Linked DNA regions of Homo sapiens. The protein of the gene in region 1 interacts with the protein of each later gene in a pairwise test. Each region holds a gene or a part of one and is shown in the gene's direction. Other genes may lie near its edges. The genes, in order: TRHR, SLC41A1, FAM241B and C1QL4.

Region 1 (5,483 bases):
TTAAGTGTTTGGGTGATCATAATGGAAATAACACAGTAGAAATGTTATCGAAAATGCAAGAAACATTCATGGAAAGGGCAAAGTATATAGGAAGGAGCATGACCTTTGTCTTAAGTAGACAGATTTGAATCACAGCTCTGTCACTTACTACTCATGTGTCTGTAGACAAATCATATAAATTACCTAAACCTCAATTTCTTCACATGCAAAATGAAAAGAATACTAGCTTACTCATGGAATTACTATAAGTATTAAATAAGATAATGTTTATATGGCATTTTTCAGATTACTTGGGCCATCTTAAAGGACTAAAATGTGATGGTATAGATCTAATTGTAAATTAAACTAGGTATTTCAATGTAGGATGCTTTACCCCTGACAGGGAGTGGGAGAATGTTGACAAGTGTGAAGCAGTGATCTGATTTCAGAGTGCCTGGAGTACCAAGCAGAGAATAAAGGCAAGGGTGTGGTTCATAATGACGAAGATCATGGTGATGATGACAATGAAGATGATAATCACTACATCTCCTTCCAAAGCTTAGAACATTTATCACTTTGATTTCCTATGACTAATTATTTACTTATATATATTTTTTAAAGTCTACTTAGGAAAAATCATGTTTCAGTTAACCCCTTTGCTAAGTAGACCCTCTTTGGCTCTAAAAGAAGTCAGAATCTCTGGAATGTCTTAGTTGGTATTATATGAACCAGTGTGAAATCACATATTCTCACTGAACAATTTTTCTACTCCTAGTGGTAAGATACGTAGCCTTAATATCCTACATACATTGAGTCAGAATGAAGCTCAGTGAACAGTGAGCAATCTGGGATATTGACCTCATCCTACCTATTGTCTTACTTCCTGTGCATTGCTTATACTTAGGAGTGGCTTCAGCATTAGGTAAAATTCCAGCATTTGCTTTCTCTCTCTTTCACTTCCCTTTAACCTGAAAGAGTGCAAAAGCTTTGAATTCAAGCTCACTTGGACAGTAATCCCAGCCCTGAGACTCTACAGCTTCCACCAAAGTACTTAACAGCCTCTGTACCTGTTTTCTAATTTGAAAAAGTAGTGGGTACAATACCTATTTTAGGAGGTTTAAAACTTTTTAAACATGGTAACAAATAAACACCTTGGATAGTGTCTGGCACATAGCAGTCACTAAACATTCAATAAACACTGACTTTTTTGCATTATTCTTTTCATGCACTGTTACCTCATTTGATTTAGGAGGGCAATGTTGGCTCCATTTTACAGATGAGCTATAAGATAGGTTAAGATAATTTCTTAGGCCACACATAGGGTAAGTAAGGAAAGGATTTGACCCTAAGTCTCCTAATGCTTGTCACAGACACTTTTGGTGCCCTGTGCTAACATTCTCTTACAAGACTCTGATTTCAGCCATAGCTGCAGTAGATGGTTCCTGCAGTGGGAAATATCCCACTTCAGGCATCCACTGTACCATTTGTCTCTCCTCTTCTTGGCCTCAAGTGTCTCTCTAAAGGCCCTAGGAGTTTTCAGGCAAGAGAATCCTGGAAGTACACAGGAGTTAAAGTCCTTAACAATATCCTTTAATGAATGGACGCTGGCATTCATTCTCTTACTTCTGACAGATAATTCTCAATTGCATTACTTGAGCCAGAGTTGGCTATAGGGGGAGCTATCTCAATAACACACTGCTTTGGCTTTTCCTACTTTGGCTTTTCCTTGTCTATAGCATTCTAATTGATAACCCTTAATCCTGCTTCCTGGGATCACCTCCCCAATAAATGACCTGCACCTAACTCCTTGTCTCAGACTACATTTTGGGAACTAAAGGTTTGGGTGAGAGAAGAAAGGGGGTTTTGTTTTGTTTTCATTTGTGTTTGTACAGCATTTCTCTCTATTTCTCCCTAGGTCACCAAGATGCTGGCAGTGGTTGTAATTCTGTTTGCCCTTTTATGGATGCCCTACAGGACTCTAGTGGTTGTCAACTCATTTCTCTCCAGTCCTTTCCAAGAAAATTGGTTTTTGCTCTTTTGCAGAATTTGCATTTATCTCAACAGTGCCATCAACCCGGTGATTTACAATCTCATGTCCCAGAAATTCCGTGCAGCCTTCAGAAAGCTCTGCAACTGCAAGCAGAAGCCAACAGAGAAACCTGCTAACTACAGTGTGGCCCTAAATTACAGCGTCATCAAGGAGTCAGACCATTTCAGCACAGAGCTTGATGATATCACTGTCACTGACACTTACCTGTCTGCCACAAAAGTGTCTTTTGATGACACCTGCTTGGCTTCTGAGGTATCCTTTAGCCAAAGTTGATTCATGAATTAGAAGAAAATGGATGACAAAGAAAATGAGAATCTGTGCAGTCATCAACAAAAGGGAGAACATGGCCAATAGTCATATGTGAAGACAGAGCAGATCAGTCTTTGTCAATGCTCTAACAAATTCTGGCCCTAGATACTTTAACCCATGAGGATGATTCAGACTTTCCTTCTTACAAACTAATATCACTAAAAATGGAGCAGATCTGTGAAATAGCTAAATGATGGAAACTTAAAGTTTAGCCCTTTTCATTTAACTTAAGAAATTCACTATATTTTCTGGACTTATAGAGTTTCAATAAAATCTAGACATCAATTTACATTATTCATAGTAACCTTATCAAATGTCACTTTTCAACTTCCCTAATTTATTTATACATTCGATAATTTGACAACATGCAGATTTTTAAATGTTTGCATTTAGTATTCATTTTAACATAGTACAGGGCTAGTTCATGAATATCTGAAATTAAAGGGAAAAATATTACAGAAACATTTTATTTATTGAGTAAAAATAAGATTTTAGACATACATGTTAACTGTATTTTAAAAGTTGCCATAATGTTTATAAAATTCTGAGATGATTTTTATATCTTAGAAGGTAGATAATCATCACTCAACTTTAATGTAAAATAAACCTCAAAATATCTGAAATTATTAATTAAGGAGAAATGTAGATTTTAAGATAAATCCAACTCTTATCAACTCTTCCAGCCTCCCACATGATGGGTGGAAAAAGGCAAAAGCCCAGATTAAGTAACTGTGAAGATACAAACTAACATACAATTAAATTTGAAAAGTATAGTCAAGACAAAGCAAGTATTTATAATTAGATTTTGCTTCTTCTCTGACGCTTTTAAGCAATAAAATCTTTTTGAACATTCTTGTTTATAAACTACTCAGCCATGTCAAGCAAATCATTCAAGCAAAATCTAGCTGAAAAGTCTGAAACATTCTTAAAAGCTTTGTTGTTATTCTAAGTCAGCCAAAATCCTGGTATCCCTCTTCCAGATAAAGAGCTCCCACTGAGAATTGTAGTCTATGGATTTTACCTTGACTGCAATTGTCTTTCCTTCCTATCTGCTTGTTGTTTGTAGGTTCTTTTTTTGTTTTTCTCAAATGCTAGTGATATTTTGTTTACAGATTCTAAAAGCAATGCAAAATTCTGTTGGCTTTATTTTCAGCAGAGTTAAAACTGATTTCATCATATTATCAGTATGTCATCTTTATATTTATGACTGACATCTGCTATTCCAGTGTTTATTGGAGACTTGTGAATGAATCTGTCCAGGACACTTGTCAGTTCCTACCTGAATCTCTTACCTATTGAGATTTGGCCAACCAGAATCTCCGAGGGCAAAAATTGCCCTTGGTGATGGTTCAGTAGTCATTGATTTTTAATGAGTAGATCAAAAAAGTACCCATACCTTTACATGCCCGTAGGCTGTCATTTTCCCTCTCCAGCCTATATCCCTATTTTATGGACTTTTCTAGAACCTAATCGCTAATGATAATTATGCCTCCCCATCTTCTTAATGAAGAATATACCATTCTTCTGAAACTTGTTTTTACGTGCTGTTTCATGGAGACTATGCTATCCAGAACCTCATTCTAGAGTGCGCTTTTTTTTTTTTGAAAATTGGCCTTATCTACTCCAGCAAGACATTTTTATCCTGTTACTATAACAGTAAATGAATGCAAGCAAATATTTGCAGGAAATACCCTAAAACCCTACCTGCATGACAGTAAGCAATCTATGTTAACTGACTTTTCATTCTGGTATAAATATTAATCTTGGCATCATATAAATAGAGCACCAGAGTGACCCAACCCCAAATCACACAAGCACATGTGTGTTTATAAACACATACCCACATGTTCATAAATTGGTGAAAAAGGGGATTGGAATATACGAGATTTTTTCATTACAGAAAGGACCTAATATCATTGAGCATCGACTATGTCTCAGGTATGCTGGTAGGTAGTCAATCAACATTATCTTCATCACAATTTCACTACAGCTGTAATTTCTCTGATGATTAGACCAGTATTCCTGTGACCTAATTCCTAATTAATAAAAAGTTATGGATTTTGCAGAATGATTATATCAGGTGTTAAAAAATACAATTAGTTTAACATGATATACACAGAATACAAAGATGCTCTTCTTATCTTTGGAAATTTAATGTATGGGCTGAATTCTTTCACTTTAATTTTTAAAAAGTTATTTCTCAAAAATCTGTTAGTTTTAGACCACATGGGAAATTCATAAGAACTCAGTTCATAGTGTTTTAACTCTAAAGCAAATGCCATTTTAAAATTAAATGTTCCTATATAATGTCCAATAGATATTTGAATTTACACAGAAGAGATATAACTTTTTAAAATATTCTTTATCACACTATACTCAATCATAAAATATTTCCACAAATAATCAAAACTTAATATACCACCAAATGAGAAATAAAGAGCTAGTTTAAAATTTGCTGGTGAAATCAAGTAATGTTATTAAGAGCCCTCCTTAATAAAAATTCCCTGTGTTCTTTTGTTACTTCCAATTTCATTAATTGCTGAGGGTCTTTGGTTAGATATCATACCTGAGGTAATTGAGTAAAGGGCACAGATCATGAATAAAATGAACAAACATAAATTCCCTCTTAGGACCTAAGGGCTGTGAGTATATTTCTAGACCTTAACATACAAGGCAAATATTCTAAATGCTGAAGAAAAATAAGACAAGTCCAAACTTTACAGTCATTCTTAAACAAATTGAATGTACAGAACAATACACCCTGATAATATACCAAAATTAATGGCTGATTTGGCTAAACAATTAGCAATGTCAAAGGAAAAGCTACAGCCATAAAACTTAGTTTAGTACAACTAAGTCTTGATGGATATTTGAAGTGTTTTATTTTCAGAAGACTATGTTGGAATAATAAGAACAACATGTCTTAGTAAAAGTTGGGTCAACATAGTTTTGGTTGGCTCTTCAAGAATAAAAGAATTTATATCATTCTAAACTATGTTAAACCTGTAAACATGATAAAGAGAAAATATTAACTTTCAGAAGGAAAAGATTTTATGTGGTTAACCTGTCAATGTATAAATTCTATAAATATTATATTTAATATCATCTTTACTTCTCAATTGCAATTAAAACAGGGATTGGAATA
Region 2 (8,766 bases), on another chromosome or scaffold:
TCCTGGCCCAGCACCAGACGTTTGGAAACAGAATTTCCAGGAAAGAGGCCTGGAAATCTATATTTTAAAAGAAGTTCCCAACAGGTGATTCCTATGACCAGGCCAGTTTAGGAAACCCTGGTCTAGAGGATAATCCTAGAGCAGTAGGCAGTAAACACAGAGGGCAGTTTGAAACTAGGTAATCTGGTTTGCAAGATACAGTCTTTTTGCATCCTGGCTCTTGCAAGATAAAGTTTGCTCATCTTTGGCTTGTGACCCACTGTGGGGTTGCTGCCCCTATTAGCTCCTACCTGCATCTATGTAAGAGACTGTCCATCATTAACCCTTTCCAGGTAGGCATGCCCTCACACTCTGGGAAGTCTAAAATTTCACGTGAGGCCCAGAAAAAGCCTGAGCTGCCCGTTCCAAGTGCCTAATCCCTGTTTATTGGCTGTTTCTCTTTGGTGAGATCTTAACAGTCCTACTGCGTGCAGGGAATGTTCCAAATGCTATATTATCCTAATCCTCTCATCATCTGTGAAGGCTAATGCAACTCCATCTTGGATGCTAATCCACCATGTTGACTTCTGATTAACTCCAGTTCTGGAAATGCCTCTAAGATTTCTATTTTATCTACTATTCCTTGGTAAGACCATATACTTATCATAAATCCTGCTCTTAGGTTAAAACAACTGACCATAAATCCTGCCCTTAGGGAACTTCACATAGCATTCTCGCCTTTCCCTACAATTGTCCTACACATTCCTTCCCTGTAAGGTATAGGTATTCCTTCCTTATAAGGTATTCAAGCCCTGGTCTTACTGCTGTCCGGGATATAGACAGGGCTTCTGTTCGCAAGTCCCTATTAAATGCTTCTTTCAAGAAACCAGATTTGTCAGCCTCTTTGGCCTCTGAGCTTTCTCAGACTTTGGGGGTAGGTTTGCATAGAACTGCTCACCATGGAACATATATTGCAGAAAGGGAATTATGTCTCCATTTGATAGACATGGCCCAAGGTCATGTGCCTAATGAATTGCTGAGCCATTCATGGATTCAAATCCATGTGATTACAATGCTGTGGCATATTCCACTCTGCAGCACTGCCTCTCAAAGATTACTTTTCTATCCCCAGTTATAGTTCACCAGACCATTTTGTTTGCTGTCAAGGCTTCCCAGCTATACTCAGTAAATTCAGAGCTGCAGCTCCAAATACCTGGAACCATCCTGCCTAAGGGAATCCCAGGGTGGGTATCCAGGGGGCTTTGGGGAAAGGGAGCTCAGTTATAGAGAAGCAAAGGGAATGATGACAGTGCTGAGCACAGATGGCCACACTTCCCTATCCCACCCCCATCACTACATCCTCCTAAAACTGAATGAAGCCGGAAGGGGATGTCACCTCAGCTCTGGGCAGCAGGAAAGAAGTTGACCTCTGGGAGGGAGGGAGCAGCGGAGGGGTCACAGCAAGGGGAAAAATGGGAGGGGGCACCCTCCCCCACAGAACAAAAGATAGAAAAGTTTCCAGCCACGTCAGGCTAGTCTTACAACTAGCCATGCTGGTTAGGGGGTCCAGGATCTATGGGGCTCTGGAATTTTATGATGTCTCAAGATGAGTATTCAGGTAGTCTATGGAGAAGCCATTGGTAGACAGTACTTGGCCCAGAAGGAAGGCCATGGGGCTAAGAGAACCTCAGGATAGAGGCTAAATTAACCACATATTAGGACAAGTGCCAAGCAAGACTGAAGAATGCTGCCCCACAGAGGACCTTCCCACACAGGCTCCTCCACAGGCCCCTGCCTGTGGAGTGATCAACAATTCCTTTTGCCACAACACTCTTTCCCACCCCACACCCAACATATGCTCATATTCTAAATGAAAACACTGTGCTTGCTATACAAATGATGTTTCATGACAAGTCACCCAGCCTCTCTCCAACTAGATGGCGTCCCCAAGCTCAGTTTATATAAAAATTTGGGGTGCTACTACTAGCTTCTAGTTAAATGCCACATTATGTTCTGAAAGACATGAGGAGGGGATGCTGTGAGTTTGTTAGGGTGGTGCAAGGGGAAATTTCTGTCTCCCAGAGTAACAGGAATCAGTGAGACTCTTGACCAGAGCTGGTCAAGGATGCTGGAGAGAAACACAGCAAGAGAAAAACGCTGTAGAATGCAACAGGCCTATGAAAACAGTGCATGGAGAAGAGGCTGATTCGGTGGTCTTCCATATTCAGGATGGACATTACAGGCCATGAGGAAGTTAAAGCTGATTTTAAAAAAAGAGTTGCCCAATGCAGGTTAGGAATAAGACCCTCCAACCAAAGTTTCAGGGAACCTCCTTTGGAGAAAGAAATGTGTTTCTAGGTGTGGAAGAGCTCTCTTGGCTAACAAGCTCAAAGACTGGGCATGTCTTGAGGCAAGAGAGAGTCCACATGACCTTTGGAGGTTCTTGTCATACAAAGGTCCACAGTGATGCTCAGAGACCCTCACTATCTTTTTGATACCCCCAACTGCGTCTCTCCTTCTGAAGTATCTGGCTGGCCTGCTACTTGCTGGTAGTTCCTGTCTTTTCATCTGTGACCTCCGCTCCCTACATCTGTGCTCATCATTTCACAGACTGTAGCTATTTCTGCTCTTTCAGTAGAGAAGGGCCAGGATGTCTTCCTCTTCCTAAGGTCACAGCTGGCTAAGCCAGAGGAAATCTGCTTCCCCCAGGTCCTCTTGGTGTTTGACTCTAGGGATCAGCACAATACAGAGCAAAGTACCTACATCAGCTTTATCCACCTCATCCATCATTCATTCAACATATTTATTAAGTACCTACTATGTGCCAGGAGCTGGGTTTACACTAGTGATCAAAATAGATATAGAGATTATATTCTTGTTCCAGTGGCCCTGACACTTCAGAAGACACCAAAACCAAGGGCTTTTGTATTTATTTACTCATAGAAATATTTGCAATACCTATAACCAACAAAGGACTCGTATCTGATATTCATAAAGAACTCCTACAAAGTGGTAAGACAGGGCTGGGCTCAGTGGTTCACACCTATAATCCCAGCACTTTGGGAGGCCAAGGCGGGCGGATCACTTGAGGTCAGGAGTTAGAGACCAGCCTGGCCAACATGGTGAAACGCTGTCTCTATCAAAAATACAAAAATTAGCCTGTCATGGTGGCATGTGCCTGTAGTCCCAGCTACTCAGGAGACTGAGGCAGGAGAATCACTTGAACCCAAGAGGTTCCAGCCTAGGCAACAGAGCAAGATACCATCTCAAAAAAAAAAAAAAAAAGTAGTAAGACAGAAGGAATAGAATAATAGAAAATGGACATGATACTTGAACAGATATCCAAGGGTCAAATAAATGCATGGAAAGGTGGTCAACTTCATTGGTTATCAGGATAAAGCAAATTTAAACTACAATACCACTATACACCCACCAGAATGGCTAAATTTTTTAATTTTTCTAGATTGACAATATCAAGTGTTAATGAGAATATAGAGCAACTGGAACACTAAGACGCTGCTGGCAGGAGTGTAAATTAATATGAGCACTTTGAAAAATTGTTTAGTCGCATTTGCTAAAGCTAAAAATATGCATATCCTTTTATGACCCAGTAATTCTATTCCTAGGTATATATCTAGTATAAATATGAACGTAAGTGTACCAAAGGACATGAACAAAAACGTTATCGCAGCCTTATTCATAATAACCCCAAAGTAGGAACAACCAAAATGTCCGTCAACAGAATAACAGATAAATTGTGGTATATTTATTTAATGGCATACCGTACGGCAATGAAAACAAATAAGCTACTGCTACCACAATGTTTTGGATGAGTTTCATAAACATAGTATTGAGTGAGAGAAGCCAGACACAAAATAATACCTACTGAATGGTTCCATGTATATAAAGTTCAGAAGTAAGCAAAACTAACCTGTAGTGTTAGATAAACGTTACTTTTGAGAAGGAGTGTGGCATAGTCACCAGGAGCGGATAGAAGGAGGGTATCTGGGATGCCAATAATGATCTCGTTCTAGATCTGGATGGTGGTCATATGGGGGTGTTCACTGTGTCATCATTTGTTGACCTGTACACTTAGGTTTCGTGTTCCTTTCCTAAATGCCTGGTATATTTCAATTAAAAAAATACACACAGGAGAGGGGAACAGTTTTCGAGTAAGTAAAAACACGGAAGGTAGAAAGGAAATAGGAGAGAGATCAAGATTTTATACACAGGTAGCTGAGCTGTGGCCAGATTAAATGGGGTAGTGGAGGGGAGGGAACTGTTGAATAGAACAGGGCAGAAGTTGCCTCCAGCCCAACCAAAGTTCCTCCAGATACATCAGCCTTAATTCCCCACCCAACCCCACACCCCGTATTCACAAACCTCATCTTTCTGGACAAGTCCCAGCATTTCCTAGACTAGCAGCTACTTCTCCTGGCAGAAAAACCCAGTATTTGAGGCCAAAACTGGGGTCTGAGACACTGATATTTTGCTCTAGTAGGTCCTGTGAGTCTGCAGGCCCTTGATGCAAATGCTCCAGAGCTGATCTGGAATCATCCTGGGGGTACTGGTTTGGGGTGGGTGAGGGGAACAGGGTTTGGTATGTGTATTTGTCATCCTTATCAAAAGGAATGACCTGCTCAGGTTGCTGTGTGTGCTCTTGTGAGCACGTGCCCAAAGCTTCATACACAGCACTGCGATCTCTTCTCCCCAGGCACATCTCCGCTCCAAACCCTATTCAGGGGTCTAGAGCCATGTTCGAATGCCCCCGGGCTACTTTCAGGGAGGAAAAGGACAGGAAGGAACCGTTGGTCACAGGTTCCACTGACAAGAGGGGAAAACTTGGGAGTGGGGGTTCCTTTATGAGGGAGGTCACACCCCCTGCACAAAAACATCCCAAAGAGAACTGGCATTGAGCTTGTGTTGGAGAGGTGGAGATACCCCAGGGAGGAAGTGGCGAAAGGTGAGCATGGGAACACCCCTCTTTGATCCCACAAGGTGCGTCAGGGAAAGTTGGATTTCATTTAGTCCGGGATGGTGACATCTCTCCGCACGCTGCCACCAGGCTCAGTGGGTCAGAGGAAGTGAGGCTCCCCTCCTCTCCGACCTCAGGTGATGCGTGTGCGACCCCAGCCATGGGTCTGACCTCCTTTCGCTCCCGCCCGCCAGTCTCCACCCCTTTCAAGGCCGGGACTTTTTTAAGGCCGGATTCGTCAGGGGTGAGCCATTTGCTCAAGGAACGCGGAATCTGGAGGGAGCCTAAAGTGACGAGCCGGCGGGAGAAGAGCAAGGTAGGGACTGTTCTGTCCGGGTACCAAGTGGGAGGAGGGAGCACGCGGCTGGCTGCTTGAGCCCGGGGGTCAGAGGTGGCTGGCTGGCTGGCTCCACAGGGACGTTTACCGGTCTTCCCGAAGGCCAGAGGCTCCAAGGAAACATCCAGAGGCAGGAGAGGACGCGCACTGTCGCACACGCCTCTCAAAGTCTGCTGGGGCTCCGACGCGGCGCAGCGGGCCCGGGGGCGGTAGCACCACGCAGCGAGCCCGGGCAGCGGGCCCCTCGGACCCCGGGCCGATGGGCGCTGGGACCCGCGCGCTCCAGGCGCATGGAGCCGGCTCCCGGTTCCCGTCACTCCTCCTACTGCGTTTCCCCGGCGCCCCGCCTCCTGGGCACGAAGCGAAGGAAGGGGGCCGGGCCGAGGTTGATCCCGCCCCCTCCCCAGTCCCTGATTGGCTGCTGCTGTTGTCCATCCGAGAATCTATTTTTGATGGAGCGGGGGGGGTGCCACCCAGTCTGCCCCAGATCACGTTTGCCACCGGCAGCCAACCAGTTGGGCCCGAGTCCGCGGGCAAGAAGCGATTGGGGGCGCGTGAGCTCGGCTCCCCGGTCCCCCGTCCGGGTGCCCCCCCGCCGGGCCCGAAGCGATATATCCTGCCCTCCCCGGCCACCTCCCCCGCGTGGAAGCGGAGCGGCGGCCTCGCTGTAACGCAGAAGCGAAATGTAGCGAGCCGGGTGTCGCGGCTGGACGCTCGCCTTGGCTGGGGGTGTGGGGGGGCACGCCGGGGGCCAAGGAGGACTGTCGAGGAGGAGTGATGAGAAGAGGGGGTGCCCTGCACCCCCCGAGACCACGGGCCACGCTGCCACTTGCCAGGCGCCCCCCTTCCTCCCAGGCGAGGGGCAGGTCAGTCCTGTGGGGTCCTGGGGCGGGGAGGGGGTGGTGGAGGGCGGCAGTCCTGGCGCGCAGCGCATTTGCTGAATCTGAGTGGTGGAGAGACTGAGGAGGCCACCCAGTTACTTTCTCTCCCTCCTCGGGGTTGGGGATACTAAAATGGGTCTTTTTTGTCCCCGCCTGGGAGGAGGGGATAGGGCGTCCTGGTTCACTTTTGCTTCTTTCGTCCCAGGGCCTTAGGCCTGTCTGAAGTCTCTTTACAGGGGGAGTGGTGAGGGAGGACTGGCTTCCCCTCCTGGGAGCCCCCTCTCAGGTTCAGTGGCCTGCCAGGAACACAGGAGGGAGGCGGGGGTGTCAGCTTTTAGCGGACTCAGAAACTTTTCTGGCATAGGGGCACTGGACTCAGAGGTTTCCTCCTGGATCTCTGGTGAGGGAGTTTGAAAGAACCACAGTACTGTGTTTAAGGAGATTGGAAAAGGGAGTCCTGGTGGGTGACTGAATTGATAGAGGAAACAGTTCTCCTGGGCCAGTTCCTGGGGTTTGATACCTCCTTTCCTAAACTGAACTTGACTAATTGTGTGTGTTTGGAATACTTAAGGACCTGTTCCTCTTACCTGGTGGAACTCTCTTTAAATTTATTTTTTACGAATAAGAGCTCTTCTGGTGAAATGGAATAGGATGGGAGTCCATCAGGAATTAGGAAGCCTGGGGATTCCTTTAGGCAGAGAAGTGGAGCCATTACAGCTAAAGAGATGCATTTGGAGCAAGTGCATATTGGCTTACGGTGCTTTGGTTTTTGTTTTGGGTTTTTTTTATTGCTACTTTTGTTTTTTTGTTTTTGTTTCTAAGAATTCCACTATATCCAACTCTCAGTAACCCTGGGGAACAGGAGGAGCCTAATTAACTGAAATGCGTGGGTAATAAGCAATCGTTTTATGCTCTGTCCCTTCTAACTGAGATAACTCCCTTGTCCTATCTGACAAGCTCACAGGGCCAAGAGCAGGGGGAGACGGGGAGAGACAGAGGCCTGGATCCGAGTCAGCTGTCTGAGCTCTTTGTAACACTGTTGACTCTCAAGGGCAGGAGTGGGTAGGCCTCTGGCTCTTGGCCTTGGTCTGGCAGGCTTGCCCCACTGCCCAGGGAGTCCTCCTAGCTTTGTTTTGTTTTCTCAGAAGCTAGAACGATCTGGGGTCTGGGGGACTTCACTCAGCAATCAGTTTCTCCCTATTTCTTTGCCCTGTGTGGCTGTCTTTCTGTTGCTGTCTTGTGATGATAAGCAGTCACTTTATACAGGGGTGGCTGTGTGGCAGGGAGTTTGTGACTGAATTTGTAACTGAACCCCACTTAAATAATGCAGGGTTCTTAATGGGCATTCAAGAAGGGGTCTTGCTGAGGACACACCTACCCACCCCCAGTTGCTGAGGAAACAGTGCAGAGGGCTTCTGCACAGCATCTTCCCAATCCCAGGCTGGTCACATCTCATTGCTGGTGACCACGGTGGTGATCCCTCAGGAGGGTTGCTGGTGGGGAGGATGGCGGGGATAGCTCCTGCTGAGCCTCCAGATGGAGCAGTGCAGGACTGAGTAATTTTTGCGGAAAAAGGGAGGCAAATAGCAAACTCTATAGCTATATGATGAACTCCTAACTTCCTTGGGGGGAAATTCTCCCAGTACAAGCTGTCCTTTGCTATAGTGTAATGTTCTTTTTCTTTTCTTTCTCCTTCCCACATAAGGTGTTCCACACTGATTCTCGTGACTTTAAGGACCAGGGATTTGAAGAGGTATTAGCTCTTCCCAGGAAGGGAGGAAGTTTCTGGAAGAGAAGGGAAAGACGGCAGACGCTGCGCTGGGACCAGCAGAGCCTGAGGAGCTGTGGGAAGCTGACAGAGCCCAGCCAAAGGAGCGGGAAGGAGCCGCAGCCCCAGGCTGGCACTGTGTTCTGAAAGATTTGAACTCAAGCTGCTTTTTACGGAAGAGGGGCCACTTCAGAGGGCACCCCAGAATTTGGTTGAGCTCTTCTACTCTGGATGCCCCCTGCTCTGAGGAGCCTGCCACTGAGAACCAAAGAAGATAAGAGGACAGATACTTTTTCTTCAAGCACAGAGCTGGTGGGTTGGAGTCAGGCATCTGCACCCCTAGTGGCTGTCTGGTGAGGAATTTCTTGTTTCTTCCCAGCTTGCGGCTTCAGTGCTTGATGGGGCTGCCTGTTGGTGGATCAGTTTTTGCAGTGCCTGGTAGGAGTGGAGAGCCGTGGGAAGAGGTCCTGCGGCGCCCAAGCCTGGGTTCACCCCAAGACTAAGTTCTTTCCCAAGTTAGAGAAGAAGAGAGAAAGCAAAAAGAAGAGAGGAAAGTTCTCCCTTCCCCTCCTCCGTGCCTGTCATGTCCTCTAAGCCAGAGCCGAAGGACGTCCACCAACTGAACGGGACTGGCCCTTCTGCCTCTCCCTGCTCTTCAGATGGCCCAGGGAGAGAGCCCTTGGCTGGGACCTCAGAGTTCCTGGGGCCTGATGGGGCTGGGGTAGAGGTGGTGATTGAGTCTCGGGCCAACGCCAAGGGGGTTCGGGAGGAGGACGCCCTGCTGGAGAACGGGAGCCAGAGCAACGAAAGTGACGACGTCAGCACA
Region 3 (6,807 bases), on another chromosome or scaffold:
AAAATAGAAACAGAAGACTCAGTGAAGCAGCGCTGGTTCTTTGAAAAGATCAGTCAATAAGATTGATAAACCTCTAGCAAAAGTGAAAGACACAAGATAGAAGACACAAGTACCAATATCCGGAATGACACAGGGATATCAGTGCCTGCCCTGTAGCCATGTGACTCGTTCTTCACAATGGAATGTGAGGGAAGTAATATGTGCTACACCTACAATACTTTTCTTTAAAAGAAATCACTAGCCCTCATTTCTTCTGTCTCACCTTTCCATGAGCTGCATATGGCGAAGAAGTTGGTGAGGCAGTTTTGACGACGCAAATAAGGGTGGCATCCTAGGGTGTAGGGGAGCAATAAGCTAGGAAGAGTGGATGTCCTTGGCTGGCCTTGTGAAGCAGAGCTGCCCATCTACTTGATTGAGTCACTGTATATTTTTTTTGTTCCAGCAGCATAGCCTGTACTCAAGCTAATATATTACACCTAGGTGGGTTTATGTCTTAGGGGACTTACATACTTACATATAACCAAGATATTGTGGGGCCACTCCAGTCTTCTGACTATGTAAGGTGTTTTCTGAGGCCTCCATCAATCCTCTGGTCCCCCATCATCTGTCCATGGATGAGGGCCATCACTGAACCACCCTTCATACCTGTCTACCTGACCCTTTCAAGTCCAGCAATTTTCCCACTACTACTACTACTACTACTACTACTACTACTACTACTACTACTTACTACTCCCTTGTCATTGCTGGAGCACAAGAATCCTTCCACCACACCTCAGACACAATGGACCCAAGGATTTCCACAAGGCCATATAAGGCCCTACCTGTCATACTCACTATCTGGCCATTCCCTTTCCCAAGCCTCATGCCCACCTTTGAGATCCAGCACACAACACCTATGCTCCCATCATTTCCTCCTTTCCCAGTGTTTTCTCTGAAGAGGCCCCTGTCATACTGTCTTCCATGGCCACAGGCCTAAGGAGGCACCAACAGTGGGCACTGGCAAGCTAGTGCTGCCTTTCTCCCACACCATTCTCTGAGTAATAAACACAGGCATAGTGTCTGCCAGAGTAGGGGAAAGAGACAGGGGGAAATAGCAGGAGAAAGAGATAGATAGATTAATATATTTAAAATGACATCACCATTATCATCATGCCATTCTCTTTTGAGGCAGAAACAGTTGTTCCCACCTGCAGAGTCAGAGAACAGGCCAGGACACCTGACTTAAAAATTATGACCTCTGCTATGAACAGAAAACCAAAAGCACATTTTTATTGACCACATGTTGGGGTTAAGGCATGACCCAATGCCCAATCTTGTGCTGATGGCACTGGGGAAGGTGGGGGCACAATTGTAAAGAGGCTGCAGAGCTGAGATGAACTCAGGGGAGTCTGTTTGGTGGATGCAAAAGCCTGGAATGCAGAGCCCGGGGACCTGCCTTCATTTGAACGCTGGCTCTGTCACTGACCTTGGGCTCATCATCTACCTTGTCTCTGAGCCTCAATTTCACCTTGGTAAAAGAGGAATAATAACACCTACTCTTTCTATTTCATAATCCAAAAAAGAATGAAGTGGTCTCTGGGAAAACACTTTGGAAGTAAGGACTCTGCACATATAGGGGTTATTATTATTATTACATGAAACAATCACGTTTGTGGATGAAGGGATTTAGATTGGGTGGAGCTGGCCTTCCAGCAGATATTCAGGCCCAAGCAAAGCAGGCCTTTGGGTGATCTACTTCAGGGAAAGCAAAGAGGCCAGGTGGGCAGAGCTGAGGGAAGGAGTTGCTGACAGTGTGCTGGGGCTAGAGTTGGAGGGTTGTCAAAGCCTTGCCAATGAGTTGGGGCTTGTTGGAGCAGACAGTAGGGACCATTGCAGGTTCTTGAGCAGGAGAGACACCTGAAGAAGGTGGAGAGATAGCAAAAGTGGTATGTTGCCTCCTTAGGCTATTTTAGTTGGTAATAATAGGCTATTTCTAAGTCCAGTCAAGCACTATCACTTCCCACCCCAAAGCTGTTCTTGACTTTTCTGTAGGGACTTGCTTCTTCCTCTCGACTCTTACGGTTCTCTCCAGCTGGAGTGTATCTCTCTGGCAGCAGTTATACCAGCTCAAATCTTCCTGAAAACATCCATGATTTTCTGCCTGTATCCCCTGGTTTCCCAGCCCACAGAGGTTACCTCCCTCTTGGGGCTCCTGAGTTCCGTGACCTACTTATGGGGTTCTGTTCATGGAAGGCAGTGTTTCTCGGCCCTAGCTGCTCATTAGAAGACTGGTTTTTAAAATGTCTCCATGCACAGATTGTAACCCAGATCAACGACATTGTGATCTCTGGGGTGGAACCTAGGTATTGGGATGGTTTCTAAACATTCCAGGTAATTCCAATGTGCACATTGCGATTTGGGATCACAGGCCACCTCTGACAATCGGGCATCCTGCCTTGTGATTACTGCTTTCATGCGTGCACTTGGCATACCTGGAACACACTGGGGTGTGGGGAGAAAGCACTAGGATTTTGGTTTATATTTACTTTACATCCTATGCTTTTAAAATGTGCATGCTTTACAATCGACTTGATAGTAGAAGAGGTAATGATCATAACAGTCAGCAGCCGTTGAGCATGTACTGCAGCCAGGCTCTCATCCAAGCACTTGACACGAAAGTGCCAGAAAGCAGTCACACCAACATTCAAACACAGGATGGCTCCAGCAGCCACCTTTTATCCATCATGCCAATCTGTTCTCACAGTACACATGTGTAATTTAGAAACAAACAAAAATAGTAACATATAAATAAGATACAGATACCAGAGCGACCCGTGAAACATTTTTTGCTGATAAGGTTTCATGATCAAATAATCAGACTATGGTGGCCGACTATGAGTCCTCCAGGCCAGGTCTAAATCTCTCTCTTAGTTTTGTTCCTTCTGCCCAGCAGCTAGCAGAATCTGGGTTCTAATAAATGCTCAACAAATATCTGCCACTCCCACAAACATTTATTAAATGATAATCATAGCTAACGTTTATCAACATTGCCAATGTGCCAGAGACATCATACTTAATCTTCACAGAAGTCCTGTAAGGCTATGATTACACCTGCTTTGTGACACTGAGCAGCTAAGTAACTTGCTAGAGTCCAGAACCTGAACCCAGACTGTGGGACTGCACAGCTCATTCTCCCCCACTGGTGAGCAGGTCCACAGGGAGCAGCTTATGAAGGTGGTGGGGGAGAAGTGGATTTTAAAACATCAGGAAGGAGGCAGAGGTGGATCATTCACTCCCTGCAGGTGGTTCCTTCTGCCAAGAGTGACCTTCTCTATCCTTACCTACCCTCCTGCCCCAGCTCAAACGCATCTTCTCCTGGAAGCCTACAGAGGGTTCTGCCCCGTTCCTGCCTCATCTTCCCCACTGAACTTGGAACTCCTAGAGGGCAGGGTTGGGTCCTACTCAAGGGGCATCCACGGAGCTGGGTCAGCAAACATAACACTGGTCATCTGAGCCTGCGCCCGCCCTTCCTCCCAGGCCAGGGCGCCCCCACCCCCTGGGTTTTTCCTCCGTGGACGCCGCTTCCTTTTCCTTCTTTTCTCCCTCCTCCTTCTTCTCCTTCTTTTCCACGTGTCTTCTCCTCCCATCCTCTTTTCTCTCCATCCCCACCTCCCACTCCTTCCCACGCCCCATCTCCCCGACCCCCAGCACCCCGCGCCGCCCCCAACCCTGGGCCGGGCAGGTGCAATTCCTCAGGCGGCCTACAGAGGGCGATGTGCGCCGCCACTGGGCCGCGCCCCTCCGGCGCGCGCTTCCTGTGAGGTCAGGTGGGAGGAAACCGCCTGGAGCCGCCGGGAGTGGACGCCGCCGAGGCCCGGAGTCGCGCCTGCAGGTGAGTCGCCGCGCCGGGGAGGGAGCGCATCCCTCGCTGCAGCCCGGGCCGGGACTTGGAGCCGGTGTCGGGCTCCAGAGGCTGGGGCTGGCGGCCGGGGCAGCGTCCCTCCCGCCCCCGGCCCGGAATGTCAGGTGCGCCGCGGGCCGGGCGCGCGGGTGGCCCACCGGGCGGGGGCGCGATGACAAAGCACAAAGGGACTGCGCGCGACCACCATCCGCTCGGCCTGCGCCAGGGCCAGCGGGCTTCAGGAGGGGGACGCGCCTGTCCCGGGCTCCAGGCTACGGGCAAGACCACAGGGCTCCTGACCTTTTTCGGCATACATGTCACCAGTGCTATCTGGAATGTAGGTGGACACTGAGGCTCATCTCCTGAGAATGAATGGCCTTTACCCAGACTCAAGGGGAGGCGTGGAGGGGCCCCGCAGTCCAGGGGTCCGCGGAGTGGAGCCTTTCGAGGGCCACCGCAGCAACCCCCTCCCATATTTTGGGAAGGCTGGGCCCTGCGCCCGTTAGCCAAGGTTGGACTGGTGTTCCCTGCGAAGTGAGGGACAGGTGAGGGGCGTGCCCTCTGCAGCAAAGGTGTGCTCTTCCGAGGCGCATGATGGCTAGGATGGTCTGCCGCTACCAGGCAGTGGTTGTAAAGTAACCCCGAAGTGACCCTCATCTCCCTGGGTGTTCCTGGGGAAGGCCCAGGTGGTGACATTGACTCCCTGGGGGAGCAACACACTCGACCCATTTTTTAGTGGAAGGGAATTGGAACCCCACTGGGGATGCTGGTGCCCTGGACTCCCAGTTTAGTACCCAGGGAGGGCCCTAGAACCAGAGCTTCTGGCCTCGTGTTCCTTCTCTGCTGTCCGTAGGTGTGATCCCGGGCAGGCCACTTAAGTCTCCCTGTGCCTCCGCCTGTGCAATGGCCGCGCTAGTACCCTCCTCGGGGGAGTGTTGTGAGGCTTGAGTGAGGTGAGCCTTGCAGGATGGGCCTTCCACGGGGCGTGGGCCACAGCAGAGGCTCTAGTCCCAGTTGTGCTGTTGGCAGTGTAGTGATTGGCAGTAAAACTTCCTTTGCCAAGGATCTTTTTGATAGTTTTCCTGGTGGACTCAATGTCTGAAATCTTTTTGCCTGGCAAACAACTTGCCTTTATTTCTCCCCTTTTTGTTAATCAGACACAGCATCTACTCAGCGTGGGTCACCTCTGTGAACATCACTGACTGCAAGCCTCCCTCAATTTCTGGTAAATTTTTTCCTTCAAGCTTTTTGAGGTCAGGGGGAAAATCCTCCACAGATCTTCACGAGTCTGGTCCCAGATCACTAACAGCTAAAGGTTTTGTGGTGGGGAGAACTTCTGTGCCACTTGGCTTCCATTAGCCTGCCCACCCTGACCACACAATGCAGGTGCAGCCCATCAGGGACCCACAGCGCCTGGGAGGATGGTGCGGATCTTGGCCAATGGGGAAATCGTGCAGGATGACGACCCCCGAGTGAGGACCACTACCCAGCCACCAAGAGGTAGCATTCCTCGACAGGTAGGTACTCATTTCCTGTGGAGTGGGACAGATGGCCTCCTGTGTACTGGCTACTCCTAGCTTCCAGAAGTCTCTCTTGCTGGTCACTAACCTTTTCTAGCCTGAAGCCCTCTTTGCAGAGAGCTGGGGAAGATGCAGTGGCTTATTGTCTACCTCCCCAGATCTCCTTTCTCCAGGCGCCTCCCCAGACTTCACAGCCAAGAGCTCTCTCTCCTTTAACTTGGTTAGCAAACCTCACTGGAGCTAGCGTCTTTCTTTTAAGAGTGGGTTGGATGACAGAAGCTGGAGAGGAAGTGGAGGAGATGAGCCCTGGGCACAGAATAATCATTTTAAAGGGGTGGCTGGGCGCGGTGGCTCACACCTGTAATCCCAGCACTTTGGGAGGCTGAGGTGGGCGGATCAGGAGGCCAGGAGTTTGAGACCAGCCTGACCAACATGATGAAACCCCATCTCTACTAAAAATACAAAATTAGCCAGGTGTGGTGGTGCATGCCTGTAATCCCAGCTACTCAGGAGGCTGAGGCAGGAGAATCGCTTGAACCTGGGAGGCGGAGGTTGCAGTGAGCTGAGATCGCGCCATTGCACTCCAGCCTGGGTGACAGAGCGAGACTCCGTCTCAAAAAAAAAAAAAAAAAAAAAAAGAAAGGAGTGATGATGAGTATTAAAAATGCTGGCCCTAGAGCCATGCCCTGTAGTCCAACCTGCCTCAACCACTTCCTCTCTCCTCTGTCCTGGGCCTGATGTGAGGAATATAGACTGGCATGTTCTGTGCTCTGAGAGCTTGTGACTTGGTTGTTGGGATTCTTATGGGTGGCATGGGGGATTGCTGAGAAAGGAGGGTGTGACCCTGGGTGGCTGTAGGAAGGGCAGGATGCAGCCTAGAGAGGTTGATTCCTGGCTGGTGCGTCAACCCAATGATTCATTCATCTCTCTCTGTCTTCACATTCCAGAGCTTCTTCAACAGGGGCCATGGTGCTCCCCCAGGGGGTCCTGGCCCCCGCCAGCAGCAGGCAGGTGCCAGGCTGGGTGCTGCTCAGTCCCCCTTCAATGACCTCAACCGGCAGCTGGTGAACATGGGCTTTCCGCAGTGGCATCTTGGCAACCATGCTGTGGAGCCGGTGACCTCCATCCTGCTCCTCTTCCTGCTCATGATGCTTGGTGTTCGTGGCCTCCTCCTGGTTGGCCTTGTCTACCTGGTGTCCCACCTGAGTCAGCGGTGACCTCTGAGGGCTGATAGGGGTGGGTTTGTTGAGAGGGACTTGCTGGGCCTTGGTGTGAGAGCAGGCATATTTGGAGGGGATCTGGTGGTGCCTTGAAGGTATGATCAGAGAGGGGACCACAGGTGTGTGTTTCCCCTTTGTGTTAAGCGTGAGGCAGAGGGAGACGTTAGTCCAGCATTTCCAAAGT
Region 4 (8,823 bases), on another chromosome or scaffold:
GGCTGCAGCCGCACCCCGCCCTCTCCCGGGCCGGGCCCAGGAGCTCCCTGGGCGGCCGGCTGAGTGACGGGCGGCCGGTGATTATGCGGAAGGGGGAGCGGGGTGCGCCGCGGGCGGCAGCGCTGACCCTTCACATTTCCGATCCGCTGGGACCCTCATCCATCCGAAGCTGCTCTTTGTCTGGCCGCCTAATTGCCGGCGGACAGGATGGATGGCGGGACCGACAGCCGCGGAATCCCTAATAAAGGCCGCGGCCGCCGGGGAGGGAGTGCAGGAGGGAGGGGGAGCAAGAGGGAAGGGATGGAAGAAGATGGGAGGAAGCACCGGGCAGCGGTCTCTGGCTCCGAGGCGCTGCGCGCGGCGCTCACTGAAGTCCAGCCCGCCTGGGGTGCTAGTTCGGGGTCCAGGTCCGGGTGCGGTGGGTTGGGGCTCGTTAAGTGTCCTGCTCGTCAGAGAAAAGCTGGGGACCCCAAGCAGAAAGAGCATCCTAGGGCCTTCCTCGCTTAGCCGAGCCCTCGAGACTTGGAGCTTAGCACTACCTCCTGGTCTCGGGGCTCTCATCAGTATGCGCCCCTACCTCAACTTCCCGCACCCCACCCGCCTCCTTTCACCTGTGGGTCTCCCAGACCCGGAGTCAATATCCCAGAGGAGAAATGAGGGGTCTGACAGCTCTCTGTGCAGCCGATCCCCACATTTCATTAACTGGAGGCTGGAGCTGGCAAGCGGTGGAGGCAGAGGGGGGCACAAAGGGAGGTGGAGGAGTCAAAGGCTAGGAGCAGCACCTGGCCAGGGGTGGAGGGCTGCCGAAGTAAGTCAGCAACAGCTCTGACCTGGCAGACACCTTGGAAGCAGTCTTTACCCACTCTCTGAGAAGCCAGGAGCTTGTCTTCAGCCCTGTGGACCCTGGTGCGATACTTTGAACTTAAGGTTGCACTGAGTTTTGGTGCCAGAGGCACTGGCTGATGAGTGGGAGCCCTGGGCCTGGCCGTGATGGCAGAGGCAGGAGGGTAGTCTCTGCAAGGAGGCAAACCATGAGCAGGTTCTTGGGCTGGGACGGTTTTCCCAGCTGCAGTCGGAGAACAGCCGGCTTCAGGCTTCCCTTTTGTCCCTTAAGCAAATTTTCCTTGACTCGCTTCGTTTTCCTTTGCCTTCCTTTTTCTCTGCCCTCTCTTCCTCCATCTGGACGGTTGTTCTCTGAAACTAACTTTGGCCATCCTTTAGCCAACAGTTGAGCACCTGTTGGGCATCATGCTTAACAGTGTCAGGGTGGGGGTTGGGGGATACACGGAGCCAAGACCCAACCCTTTTGGCCTCACATACAAAAGGCTCCCGGAAGCCATTCAAATCTCACTGCCCACTCCTGGCCTGCCTCTCTCACTCTTCCACTGCCTTGGGTGCCATTTGTCTCCTCTAGGGAACTGAGAAGGAAGCCAGGAGGTCATAACTCTAATTCCAGGACTATCCCTTACAGGGTGATAATGGACAAGCCATTTCCCCTTTCTGGGCCCCAGTTTTTTTATCTTTAAAATGGGGACAATAGATCTAACTCTAAAGGGTGCTGTGAGGATGCAACGAGAAGTTGCATGTTAAAGCCCTAAAATACAATAAGGACTCAATAATGTTGTTTCCCTTTCCATGCCGTCCCCTGTCCTCTCACGTGGATTCCCTTGTCTTCATACTAGAGGACTGCTACCAGGCAACCCAGGCTGCTTCCAGATCCATGTGATCTTCAATGTGGGAGTTGAAAGCCAGAGTGTGGGAATGAGTAGGGAGAACCACACTGTGACGGGCCCTGAAGGGGAGGAAGGAGAGAGTGCAAGGAAAAAAAAAAAAGTGTTTCCTTAGATCTTGATAAAATGTCAGGCAGCGAGGAGGTTTCTCTTCTCTTACTGATGAGGAAACTGAGGCACGTTCAAGTGATGCAGGCATATCATGCTGCTGGAGCCTTCCCTCCCAAGGGCCCTCTATTGCTCACCTCTTCACCCCCTTTCTTCCCTTGAGGGGGTCTGGGTCAGTGACAGTAAGTGTGAGAGAAGGAACAAAAAGAGAGAACTTTCAAGGAGCCAGGACCTTTCCACTAGACTTCATAAAATTTTAACATGAAAACTTCCACAGAGTAGAAGGCACATATCACATGCAAATCATATGCTAATCACATGCTAATCCAAAGTCTGGTCCTCAGAACTCTGACACACACCTAGCTATAGCCCTGGGGGGGATTCTGGGGATCCCCCTGGGTTCCAGGACAGGTGAGGGAGGCATTCCATTTAGGGTCAGTTTATGGAGTTAAAATTCATTTTAGGATTGAAGAGGAGTCGAGTATATAAATAGGGGTTAGGGTCAAGGCTAATGCAGAGTCAAGGACAGACTGGTCTGTCTGAAGGCTGCATTAACCTTTAAGTGGGGGAGCCTAGGAAACTGTTAAAGGCTTCCTCTCCTCTCCGCTCCCCCTGCCAACTCTGCCCCCCACTTCCACTGCCCCTTCTTTGTCCTGCAGCACACCCTTCTCTACCTACTTCCCATTCCCAACCATACCACCTCCCTGGGGCTTCCCAGTTTGGCTGCCAGAGGAGTTCTGGGAAAATTGTCCCAGACCCTGGCCTGGGCCCCAGCATTGCCTCGAGCCCAGACACTTGGCTTCTGGCCCAAGGTGCACAGGCTGGCCTTGGCCCCACCCAGGTCCCTTCTTGGCAGAATGTGGCAGCTGCAGGGGAAGCAATAAGGACCTGGTGAGCTGGCAGCTTCATTCCAGAGTGTGGGAAAAGAGCAACAGAACATGAATAAATTCATGGAGCTGGCCCCTCAGCTCCCCGTGAGCCAAGCCGGCTCCCCCGACCACACAGATCCGCTGCTGCCTGCAGCCCTGCTGGTCACCACATCTCACAGCCTGGGCTGGGGATGGGAGGAGAGGGGAAGCTCTAGAGAGAAGAGGACTGGGACCTGAAAGGGGCTGAGGTGAGGGACTTAAAAAGGGGACCTTGGTGAGTAGAATGAGTGGAGTGAGGAGTGTGGCTGGGCAGAGGGGGTCTCTGGTGAGTGGAGGGAGGGAAAAGGGAGGGAGAGGAGTCAGGACCTGGGGTGGATGGGGCCTGAGGATCAGGCAGGGGAGGCTGGTGTGAGCCTGGGCCTGCTCTCTGATCCATCCATCATCCAGCCTGGGGGAGCAGATCCGGAATTAGACATGCAGAGGGCTGACACGGCCCTCAGCCCCCCGAGGAAGACAAATGGCGACAAAGACCTTGAATAAAATTTGTATTTATGGTTGGAGGAGGAGGCCCCTCCCCCACTGACTGCCAATCCTTTCTCTCCCACTCCTTGCAGACATGTAGGGGCCTCCCCCAACCCCCAACACAGGCCCAGCCTTAGGAACCTCTCTCTCCCAGCATCATTATGAGGCGGGGGTCGGGGGTGCAAGGAAGGAGTACAGAAAACAAGAGAGGAGGAAATCACTCTCCATCCAATAATCATGCCCTGGTGTGCCCTGTGCCCTCCATCTTACACAATGTTCTCCCATACATGATAGTCCTGGCTTATCCTGGTCTCTAAGAGGCCTTTGCAGCTGCTCACCTCCAGGGTCTCCAAATGCCCCCACTTTTTACCAGTCCTAGAACCTGTTTTCCTAGCCTCTGGGGTCCCTGTGAGCAAGACATTTTCCCCAGAAGGCCCAGGCCCTAAGAGAGGATGCAGCCAGTAGCTTTTTCTCTGGACTCTGATCTAGCAATGCCTGTGTCTAGCAATGTCTTGGCCGCTCGGAAAGACAGATACAGTCCCCTCTTACAGGAGGGTGCCTAGCACCTAATCTGCATTTTACTTACATTAATTTGCATGGCCAACTTCAACCCCCACCCAAATACCCATTATGTGGGATCCAACTTCTCTGGGTTTCATCTAACAACAAACTCTTGAAGAAGGAGGAAGGGGCAGAGACTCCTGGGACTGGATAAGTCTGGGACCAGGGCAGGGGTGGCATTGGGCTGAGCTGGGCAGGGCAAATGAGAAGACAGCTGTCTTCTGACTTCCTCTCTGTCCAGTAGAGTCCTTCATTCTCAGTCCCAAGGTAGGAAAAATGGCATTTGTGGGCTCCAAATTGAGGGACTAGGAGGAAGACAAATACAAATACCTCCCTTCAAACAGCCCTCACATATACATACACAAAGACAACACACAATCCACAATCGCACTCACCCAGGGACACACAGGGCCAGGATCCCATGGCCACCTCCACACTTTGGAGCACACTGTCACAATGCACAGGCCCAGAGCCTAGCACTGCTGGCAGAGCCGCCCTGCCCCCGCATCTTCCCCACAGTTGATATGTCACATTGGAGTCCAAACACGGACCTGGGTGTCTCTCTGCAGCGCGCCATTTACATTTCTCTCTCGATCTGTCAACCTGTCCCGGCTCTGTCTCTCTTCCTCTGTCTCTGTCTCTCCCTCTCCCCCTCTGGGGCTGTCAGTCCGTCTCTTTTCGAAGCTTTGTCTCTGTCTCTGCATCTCTATCTAGCTTTCCTTCTCTTTGATTTCTGTCGCTCCTTCTCTGCTTTCTTGTCGGTTTCTTGCTTGCTCCCCCGGGCTGATCTGTTCTCTTATTTTCTCTCTCTCTCTCTCTCTCTCTCTCTCTCCACACAAACACACACACACACACACACACACACACACACACACACACTCCGCTCCGCGCCCCAATACTGAGGGGTGGGGGTAGGGTTGGCTAGAGATTTGCCTTTTCCAGTTCAGGCCAACTAGTATCAGTTGAATCCTTTACCATGTTATTCGGTCACGGGCGCTGAGGTGCGTGGGGTGGTGAATTTCTATCTTTTCTAGCCCTTCTTATTTTGTTTTCTGTTTGTTTGTGAGGTCCCTCCCCCTCATTTTAGCTCGGGAATCTACCCCTGTCTTCTCTGCGTGTTTGTATCTTGACCCCTCTTTATCCCATCGCTGTTTTGGGTTTCCTCTGGCCTCTGAGAATGCCAAACTCCGGGTAAAGGGTAAAAGTAAAGATACAGCGGGGGCCGCGAAACCCTGAAGAACCCGCTCAGAGCCGGGAAGGAACCTAGGGGCAGTGGGGGAGTGGAGGGGAGGCGGGGAGGACGTGGGTGGGGGCCGCTGCCTGCCCCGCCCCCGCACTTCCCACTCTGGGCACCAGGGGTCGCTCCGCCTCTGGCCGCTTATAGTGGCTCCCGCCGCGCGGCGCCTCATACCACCCGCGCCCGGGAGGGAGGGGAGGAAGGTTAGGGAGGCGGAGAGGGACCGCGCCCGCAGGAGAGAGGCGCGGGCCAGGGCTCTAGCAGGGACTGGGGCCGCGGCAGGGGTAGCAAGGTGAGTCGGTGCTTGCCAAGAGGCAGAGCGCAAAACCTACTAGGAGATCGCGCCCGGTGAGCAGCACCCGCAGCTCAGAGCCCGGGACGTCCGGAGCGCGGGGAGCAGTCCCCTCTCCATCAGGGAGTGGTCTATCTGGGCAGTCTGGGACCCAGGCACCGCGCCATCCCTGAGAGAGCAGCAGTCTGGAGAGCAGGCATCTCAGATCCCTAAGAAACCAGCCGTCCGAGAAGCCGCGGATCTCAGGTGCCCAGGATCGTTAGGACTGAACGGGAGGGTACTAGAGGACCACTGGCTCTGGACCGTCGGGAGCTGCCCCTGACGTAACCCACGAGGGGCCTCCCCTTGACGGACGGCTTGGGGAGCGGCACCGCCGCGGCTGGAGCCCGCAGAGGCAGGGTAAGGGGAGCGGGGGGCAGCCGTCGGGGGAGTGCAGACCCAGGCCCAAGGCGGGTCACCGCCTCCTGGCCCGCGGAGAGCCCCGGCCCCGGCAGCCATTGCGCCCAAGAGTGAGGAAGATTTGCTGGCCCTGGCAGCGTCGCGGCTGAGCCGCCGCAAGAGGGTGGCGGGCGCGGCCGTCGGAGTGGCCATGGTGCTGCTGCTGCTGGTGGCCATCCCGCTGCTGGTGCACAGCTCCCGCGGGCCAGCGCACTACGAGATGCTGGGTCGCTGCCGCATGGTGTGCGACCCGCATGGGCCCCGTGGCCCTGGTCCCGACGGCGCGCCTGCTTCCGTGCCCCCCTTCCCGCCAGGCGCCAAGGGAGAGGTGGGCCGGCGCGGGAAAGCAGGCCTGCGGGGGCCCCCTGGACCACCAGGTCCAAGAGGGCCCCCAGGAGAACCCGGCAGGCCAGGCCCCCCGGGCCCTCCCGGTCCAGGTCCGGGCGGGGTGGCGCCCGCTGCCGGCTACGTGCCTCGCATTGCTTTCTACGCGGGCCTGCGGCGGCCCCACGAGGGTTACGAGGTGCTGCGCTTCGACGACGTGGTGACCAACGTGGGCAACGCCTACGAGGCAGCCAGCGGCAAGTTTACTTGCCCCATGCCAGGCGTCTACTTCTTCGCTTACCACGTGCTCATGCGCGGCGGCGACGGCACCAGCATGTGGGCCGACCTCATGAAGAACGGACAGGTGAGATGCCCCTCTCCCCAACCCAGCTCAGACTGGTCGCTCTCTAGATCTCCCTGCACTCATCCCACAACCTGAGATTATTCCCCGAAACAGCGTCACTGAATCCAGGAACGCGAGGCTGCCAAGAACGATAGATGACTTCATTTACCCACAGAGGAAATTGGGGGCCAGAGAAGGAAAACCTTCTGCCTAGGGCCTCACGGAGTGTAGGAATGGTGTTAGAATTAGAACTCAGGACTTAAACCTGAGTGTCTCTGCAGCTGTGACCTCACATTGCAACTATGGGCAACACCAGATGTCTTTGGTGTCTCGCCCTGCCAACTCGCTTCTTTTCTCGTCCTGTCTTGGGCTATCCTTTCTTCTGCGGCAGCCCCCCTGGCCTTTGGGTCTCTCAGCCTTGCATTGGACCAGCTAACTGGAGTCTAGGCTCCTTCGAATTAGAATGGAATCCATGTCTCAGGCAATAGGAAGTCAGCAGCTGTTCTCATGTTGAGGGCATTCGGGTTGGATGTTTGAGGAAAAGGTATAAAAGGAAGAAAACATTTGCCTGCTCACTTCACCTGCCGATCAGCTGTTCTGTTGCTCACCCCAGGGCTGGGGGCCTAGAACGGCCTTGCCCTCAGCAGAGTCTGTGGCTTGGCAGCTCAAGGGCCAGCCAGGTGGCTGGAATGAATGGATTTGGGGGAGGAAAGAGGCAAGGGACAGGTAGAATAGCCTTGGGCCCTGGCCTGGTCTTGTAGGCCCCACACCCTCCCTAGCAATCTCTCAGTATCCAGGTTCCACAGTTCCCTGCCCTTGTGGGCAGTTGGAGTCACTGTTGCCTCTGTTTTCGGGGAATAGCCCCAAGGACTAAGCTCTAGCACCAAAATTTCACACATAGTGGGAACTAGAGGCCGCAGGTGTGGGGTAGGTGGGAGAAGGTGCCAGAGCTGCACAGGCTGCAGAGGGAGGTTGGGGCTGAGTGGTGACCTCTGGATGTCCAGCATGAAGGGGGTGGTGGCGACCCAGGAGCTTCAGGCCTGCAGGAGCCTGGTACCGCGGCAGCATCTACCTGCCCCGAGACCTGCTTTGGGATCTCATCCCAGCCGGGCTGCCCCAGGAACCCGGGGAAAGGGAGTGAGTGTGCGTCCTCATGGAGTGAAAGAATATGTATGTGTGTCAGGGAGTGTGTGTGAGTGCGGAGTGCGATGTGAGAGTAGAGCGGTGTCTATCTGTATATGACATCGAGTAGGTGTGCTTGGTCCATGCAGGGTATCTGGGAGGAGGTGGAGGGGGCCAGTGTGTAACTAATTCGTGCGGGTTTCAGAGGGGGAGGGGACTGCGCAGCTCCCACTCTGTATTCTTCAGTGCGGGCGCTGCGGCCCTGGGGACGGTAAATAGTGATTAGAATAATGATGAATAATTAATGAGTTAATAACCAGCCCCTGTGGGACTCTCTAGAAGAGGGGGGCTGAAGGCCCGAAGCGACCGCCATGAGCCCGGAGGGGAGGAAGTGCTCCCTGTTCTGGCAGAAGACGACCCCCCACGCCTGGGCACCAGTGGGTGCTTGGTCGGGAAATCCGCGCCCACAGGCGAGAGCGCAACAGTGCACCTTATCATGGCCCGCACCCTATGCACACGCACAGGCACACCTATGCCCCACCACTGGGGAAGCCAACCCTCCATGAGGACTGACAGGAGGTCCCAGCCGGTTCAGAATTTTAGAAATTATCCTATAGGCAAAATTTTATTTTATTTTATTTATTTTTTGAGACAGTTTCGCTCTTGTTGCCGAGGCTGGAGTGCAATGGCGCTATCTCGGCTCACGGCAACCTCTGCCTCCTGGGTTCAAGCGATTCTCCGACCTCGGCCTCCCGGGTAGCTGGGATTACAGGCATGTACCACCACGCCCAGCTAATTTTGTATTTTTAGTAGAGACGGGGTTTCTCCATGTTAGTCAGGCCGGTCTCGAACTCCCGATCTCAGATGATCTGCCGGCCTCGGCCTCCCAAAGTGCTGGGATTACAGGTATGAGCCACCGCGCCTGGCCGACAAATTTTATTTTTAAAATGAGAATAGTAATTTGAAAATGCATTAAAAATAATTTAAGAATGGAAACCACTGAGCCAGGCGCGGTGGCTCACGCCTGTAATCTCAGCACTTTGAGAGGCTGAGGTGGGTGGATCACCTGAGATCAGGAGTTCGAGACCAGCCTGGCCAACACAGTGAAACCCCGTCCCTACTAAAAATAGAAAAAATTAGCTGGGCGTGGTAGTAGGCGTCTGTAATCCCAGCTACTAGGGAGGCTGAGGCAGGAGAATCGCTTGAACCCGGGAGGTTGCAGTAAGCCGAGATCGTGCCATTGCACTCTAGCCTGGGCAAAAAGAATGAAACTCCAT

The links.
Region 2: the proteins of TRHR (region 1) and SLC41A1 interact in binary tests that used the Homo sapiens proteins (3 or more experiments, as listed by UniProt).
Region 3: the proteins of TRHR (region 1) and FAM241B interact in binary tests that used the Homo sapiens proteins (3 or more experiments, as listed by UniProt).
Region 4: the proteins of TRHR (region 1) and C1QL4 interact in binary tests that used the Homo sapiens proteins (3 or more experiments, as listed by UniProt).

What each region holds. Positions count from the first base shown.
Region 1 is NC_000008.11:109,117,154-109,122,636, forward strand, and holds the end of TRHR (thyrotropin-releasing hormone receptor), read left to right. Parts: intron 1-1,894; coding exon 1,895-2,302; 3' UTR 2,303-4,412; downstream 4,413-5,483. UniProt on the Homo sapiens protein: Receptor for thyrotropin-releasing hormone (TRH). Upon ligand binding, this G-protein-coupled receptor triggers activation of the phosphatidylinositol (IP3)-calcium-protein kinase C (PKC) pathway.
Region 2 is NC_000001.11:205,810,199-205,818,964, reverse strand, and holds the start of SLC41A1 (solute carrier family 41 member 1), read left to right. Parts: upstream 1-5,766; 5' UTR 5,767-6,157; intron 6,158-7,875; exon of another isoform or gene 7,876-7,877; 5' UTR 7,878-8,523; coding exon 8,524-8,766. UniProt on the Homo sapiens protein: Na(+)/Mg(2+) ion exchanger that acts as a predominant Mg(2+) efflux system at the plasma membrane.
Region 3 is NC_000010.11:69,626,440-69,633,246, forward strand, and holds the start of FAM241B (protein FAM241B), read left to right. Parts: upstream 1-3,807; 5' UTR 3,808-3,874; exon of another isoform or gene 3,875-4,197; coding exon of another isoform or gene 4,198-4,220; intron 4,221-4,264; exon of another isoform or gene 4,265-4,836; intron 4,837-5,040; coding exon of another isoform or gene 5,041-5,108; intron 5,109-5,269; coding exon of another isoform or gene 5,270-5,304; coding exon 5,305-5,400; intron 5,401-6,350; coding exon 6,351-6,620; 3' UTR 6,621-6,807. UniProt on the Homo sapiens protein: May play a role in lysosome homeostasis.
Region 4 is NC_000012.12:49,333,563-49,342,385, reverse strand, and holds the start of C1QL4 (complement C1q-like protein 4 precursor), read left to right. Parts: upstream 1-5,197; 5' UTR 5,198-5,908; coding exon 5,909-6,445; intron 6,446-8,823. UniProt on the Homo sapiens protein: May regulate the number of excitatory synapses that are formed on hippocampus neurons. Has no effect on inhibitory synapses. May inhibit adipocyte differentiation at an early stage of the process.